Regions from separate parts of the Homo sapiens genome. Here region 2 is linked to region 1. A link means that fine-mapping ties the variant in region 1 to the expression of a gene that starts in the linked region. Tissue or cell type: whole blood. Region 1 holds a variant in brackets; the other region holds the start of a gene. All regions are shown on one strand. Distances are between the middles of the regions.

Evidence for each region. PIP is the estimated chance that this variant, and not a neighbour inherited with it, causes the effect.
Region 2: FAM81B starts here. The variant in region 1 is fine-mapped to the expression of FAM81B in whole blood (INTERVAL, PIP above 0.99). The same link has a PIP of 0.9 or more in blood mononuclear cells.

The regions. Positions count from the first base shown.
Region 1 is chr5:95,412,832-95,415,761 of GRCh38, reverse strand. FAM81B (family with sequence similarity 81 member B) reads right to left here. Exons shown (of 10, transcript NM_152548.3): 4 at 1,572-1,815. Among named protein-coding and RNA genes, the nearest start is that of FAM81B, 23 kb to the right of the region's middle. The variant G/A (reference allele first, on the strand shown) is at 1,679.
Region 2 is chr5:95,389,693-95,392,622 of GRCh38, reverse strand. It overlaps FAM81B (family with sequence similarity 81 member B), which reads right to left and starts at 1,257. Exons shown (of 10, transcript NM_152548.3): 1 at 1,110-1,257. The coding sequence starts at 1,233. It overlaps LOC105379089 (a long non-coding RNA gene), which reads left to right and starts at 1,451. Exons shown (of 3, transcript XR_948586.1): 1 at 1,451-1,553. RefSeq lists an enhancer at 1-97.

The DNA.
Region 1 (2,930 bases):
AATATTCTTAGAAACAGTTCAATGTTTCTAAGAATGTTGTTGGCTTTTTCAATTACCAAGAAGTTTTGACTCCTAAATTGGAATCTTATTTTAGCACTATGCTGTACTTACTTGATTTTCTAGTCATTTCAAAAGGCACAGGGCTGCTTGCCTCTTGTCACTTTCATGATACTTCATTATGCATGGAAATACCTTTAATCACTTTGAGAGTGGCATTGACCTTTGAAGCACTGAGGTCAATTCAAAATGTGCTAAATACCAATAAAGTGCTTTTTAAAAGTTCACTGAGAGTTTTAACTTTTCACACTGCCTCAGGTACATTATGGGGTCTGTTAAACCCTGCAGATGGAAAATGAATTAATCAATATCCTTGCCCTTAAGAACAAATTCACAAAGGAGTAATTGCTGGTTCAATCCCATAATTTTAATAAAATCCAGTATTCTCTTTGATAGTAGAAAAGGACAAGTATCGTGAGACTGCATTGTTGTCAATTCTCATGATAACTCCACAAGTTTTGGGCCAGTTTCCTAAAGTACACTATCTGTAGCCCTTGCATGAAAATTGTTAACCCAGATTCATCACGTACATCTGCACCCTAGCAACTCTCGAAGACCTCTTACACAAGCATGTTTCTCTTGATTTAGACAAAGAATTTTCTTTTTTTGATGAGAAACTCTATTTTTACTCTAATGCCTTAAAATTAATTAATTTATTCATTCATCAATTTAAGGAATATTTAGAGTGCTGACTACAACACCACTGTTGTCTGGTATGGGATATGGGATTTAGCATGAAGAAAACAAACTCTTTGACTTTATAGAGATTATATCTTAGAAAGAGAAAACAAACAGGAATCAAATATAGACCATGGTAGTTTGCAATGAGTGCTATGTGACAAAAAAAATAAAGTAGGCTTTAAGGGAGATTGAAACCATGTGGGTAGAGGTGCTATTTTATAAAATGTCATGCAAATCCTCTGTTACGAGGCTATATTTGAACAGAAACCTGGAGGAATGAAGCACGTTGCATAGGAATATCTAGGGGAAGATGATCCAGCCAGAGTGAATTATGAGTGCAAAGACCCCAAGGCCAGAATGTGTTTGGAATGTCCTAGGAACAGCTGGGAGGCCAGTGTGGCCAGAGTGAAGGAAAGAAGGGTAGAAGACGGGGCTAGAGAAATTGCTGGCATCAGATTGCAATGGCTATACAATGGAGCGTTACTGATGTGCATTATGAAAACCTCTATTTGAAGTTATTGCATTAATAGAATCTTGGAGATTTAGGCTAACATAAGCATCTTAGCACAATGTCTGACATAATGTCTTTGTTGTCACAAAATAAATATACAGTAAATATTTTTTGAATAGAAGTTCCTTCTACTTTTTGGCATAAATGAACAGCTGAAAAATTGAACTGTTTCCCTCTTAGACCACTAAAATGTAATCATCTAAACTTAAGCAATAGTGATATATTTCTGCACTTGAAAAATGACACTGATGGTTGATAATCTTTATCAAGCAATGCTGCCAAAATACAAAACAAAAACAAAATAAAACAAAAAGAGAACTACCTCAATATTTTGGCTGAGTTTTTTGACGATGCTGGTGATGGTCTGGATGTGGCTTTCCAGTAACTTCCTGGCGAGCGATTCCTCTTTTCGAAAGCCATGGGTCCCCT[G/A]CAGGCAAGCAGAGATGTCCTCCTTGATGCGGAAGGCTTGTTCAAGAAGGAAAGCTATGGTACGCGCCTGGTTGTTCAGTCTGTCTTCTAGCTGACCTCTCTGGGTGTTTGGAATGATGGGGAGAAAAGCATGACTCCTGATCAGAAAAAGGAAAAGGAAACACCAGGGCATTACAAGAATGAGCTGGAGGAGCCAGGAACCAGAACTAGAATCCTCACTTCTGATCCTTTATTTTTGCCCTGTGAGAAGTTTGATAGGATTTTAAGCACTTGCCATGGTTAGAATTTGGTGAAGGTCTCATCTAAGAAGCAGATGCACTTTTCATGCTTCAAGCCAATTGGTGGTAGTTAGGAGTGGGTAGAGGCATTCATGAAAGAAGATGTTAGAAGCCTTCTTCCAAGACTGACGCCTTTATATACCCCTTATGAAAATTCTACTTTAACGTAGAAAAAATTAAGTTTTTATAACTATAAAGATGCAAAAGTGACTGTGTTAGAGAGTTTTCCAAGGTGTGAGTCCTGGAATAGGAGTCAGGAGGATAGGCCACCACAAAAGAATTCTATGATCAAATACACTTAGAAAACCTTGCATATGATGTCTCTCCCTTAGAGATTCACATTGTACATTTTCATATTGTCTAACAGAATTATTCTAATTTCATAGTTAAGGAAATTAGTTCATGAATGGTACCAATCATAATCCCAAAAGACATAATCTCAAACATTGAAATTCCTAAAGTTTAAAATCCCTTGACTGGATTAAGGGATACCTAGAACCTGGTGTAGCAGTGTATCTTGTGAGGGTGTTTCCAGAGGAGATTAGTGTGTGAGTCTGAGTGCACAACGTGAGAAAGATCTATTCTCAATGTTTTGAGTGTTTCGAAAATCATAGAAAAAGTAAAAACACAGGTGAAAAATATAACAAATGTCCCCTGTCAAATGATTCAATCATGTATGACTTCTGCCCCTTCACACATAGTGCCATGCTTGCCTTCAAAAAACACTCTTCATCAGAGAATAAAAAGAATTCCACAAGCTGAGCAACATTCTGAACCAAAGATGCTTGCCGATATAGAGGTTCCTCCAGTGTTCTGAAACTCATTGAGTGATGAAATATTCTTAGTTTGGGATTTGACTGTCAAAGAAGATAGACTTCCTATATTTGCCACTAAATCTAACATAGACAACCTAGTGCATCCTTCACTTTGGCTGAGGAATGACACTTTGAAAATCGTCCCCATCTTTCTTATCA
Region 2 (2,930 bases), 23 kb after region 1:
TCCCCCCATAACATCTATAGTTAGCTAGAAGAGCATTTCTTTACAGATACTTCTATAAGACCTTTAGAAACTTTTTTAGGATCAGACAGCTCTAAAATAATCAGGAATGTATTTTTTTTAAATTATACTTTAAGTCCTGGGATACACGTGCAGAACATGCAGGTTTGTTACGTAGGTATACACGTGCCATGGTGGTTTGCTGCACCCATCAGCCCATCATCTACATTAGGTATTTCTCCTAATACTATTCCTCCTCTAGCCCCCAACCCCCAACAGGCCCCAGTGTGTGATGTTCCCCTCCCTGTGTCCATGTGTTCTCATTGTTCAACTCCCACTTGTGAGTGAGAACATGTGGTGTTTGGTTTTCCGTTCCTGTGTTAGTTTGCTGAGAATGATGGTTTCCAGCTTCATCCATGTCCCTGCAAAGGGACATGAACTCATCCTTTTTTATGGCTGCATAGTATTCCATGGTGTATATGTGCGGCATTTTCTTTATCCAGTCTATCATTGATGGGCATTTGGGTTGGTTCCAAGTCTTTGCTATTGTGAACAGTGCTGCAATAAACATACGTGTGCATGTGTCTTTATAGTAGAATGATTTATAGTCCTTTGGGTATATACCCATTAATGGGATTGCTGGATCAAATGGTATTTCTAGTTCTAGATCCTTGAGGAATCACCTCACTGTCTTCCACATGGTTGAACTAATTTACACTCCCACCAACAGTATAAAAGCGTTCCTATTTCTCCACATCCTCCCCAGCATCTGTTGTTTCCTGACTTTTTAATGGTTACTATTCTAACTGGCATGAGATGGTATCTCATTGTAGTTTTGATTTGCATTTCTGTAATGACAAGTGATGATGAGCTTTTTCTCGTATGTTTTGGCTGCATAAATGTCTTCTTTTGAGAAGTGTCTGTTCACATCCTTTGCCCACTTTTTGATGGGGTTTTTTTTTCTTGTACATTTGTTTAAGTTATTACTCTGTTGTGCCCAAGCCTTCTGAGGGTCTTCATTGGGATTCATTATTTTGTTTATATGTAATAAGAAACAGAAGAAAGATAGTGAAGTAGGAGAAATTTAGAGACCTCGAATAGTCCATAAGTACCTGAACTCATGATGCTTGCTTTTCCAGCTTTATTTTTTGTAGATTTGATATTTTTGAAAAACAATCTCTGTGATTTTTTTCTTTTTTCTGAGGAAGCCAATGTACCAAGGAATTGTAATTGCATCCTAACTAAGGTCTTCCTGTTTCTGGGGCCTCTTCCCAAGGGTGACTTAGTAGCATTGTGACTGCAGGAAGGATCTATGATGTCAGTGTGGCTGGCCCTCACAACTGAAGTCAGGAAATCCCTGGGATTTAGAAGCTTTGAATGTTTTCTGTAGTGCTCATCATCATACAAATCACTAAGCCTTTCACTTCTTTGTCTCATGGGGTGGGAAGTGGCCATTGTTATACTGATATTTCACACTCTTCTCCTGATTTCATCTTCACAGTTTGAAAAGTGACGAGTTATCATCAAGCTAGACAAAGAGGAAATGAAATGCTGCGGTATGCCCAAATCTTTCTCCAAGTATGTTAGGGAGGAAGCTAACTCTTCTAGGTTAGAAGGGGACTTCACAGATAGTGCAGCACTGATGAAAAGTGACATGGGTCAGAGTTTTACAGAAATGAAAATATTGAACTTTGCCTTTGTAGGGGAAATTTTGTTCAGTTATTTAGCCAAAAGGGGGTGGATTGTTTTAGCTGTAAAATGTTTGTCTGAGTTTTAAAATTAGAATTTGCATGTTTGTTAGTACTACTTGGCCTCCATATACAGAAATGATGCTTTGGCTAAGTTGTTGTCCAAATTATGGTATCAGATTTGCCTTGTTTAAAGGCACACAATGTTCAGGATGCTGAGTGACAAACTTTGATCCCACAGATAAAGGACACCTATGATTTGGGCTTCCATGCATATCCCCTAGTCCTAAGCTAAGCCCTTAAAACTCAAAGATGCAGTAGTTCATGGTTTGCAAGCAGTCCAAAAGGCTCATTATGCTACCCTAATCACCATTGTATCTAGTGCCAAGGGAGACTGACACACAGCAGTGACTAAGAGCAGGTGGCTACAGATTCTGAGAGAGTGGATTGGAACCCTGACTCCTCAACCTACCAGCTGTTTAGTTTGGACAAAATTACATCACCTCTTTAAGCCTCAACTTTCTCCTCTGTGAAATGAGCTAATAATATCGATCCCATAAGATGGTTGAGAGGATTAAATGTAATAATATACTTACAGCGCTCAGCTGAGGGCGGTGCCAGGAATCCACTAAAAGATAACTATTATTAGCGATTATTTCACAAGGTGCCAATTATCCAAGAAACAGTCACAAGCAGAGTCTGTGTGAGAAAGAAAAACTAGATTTAACCTTGCTTAACAACTTTTTAAGATTCTTTCTCTTCTTAAATTCAGCTTTTAATCCATGGTATTTGGTTAGAAAAATGGGCCCTACTAAAATGGACAATTTTGGTAGGTTTGTTCTCTAAACATAAATGGCTATTCAATTTTAACATAACAATGCACATAATATATATGTATATTATTAATGTCTGCTCTGGTTTGAATCTCTCCACCAAAACTCATGTTGAAATGTAATTGCCATTCTTTTTTTTTTTTTTTTGAGTTGTAGTCTTGCACTGTCACCCAGGCTGGAGTGCAATAGTGCGATCTTGGCTCACTGTAAGCTTGGCCTCCCAGATTCATGCCATTCTCCTGCCTCAGCCTCCCAAATAGCTGGGACTACAGGTGCCCACCACCACACTCGGCTAATTTTTTGTATTTTTAGTAGAGACAGGGTTTCATCGTGTTAGCCAGGATGGTCTCGATTTCCTGACCTCGTGATCTGCCCACCTCGGCCTCCCAAAGTGCTGGGATTACAGGCGTGA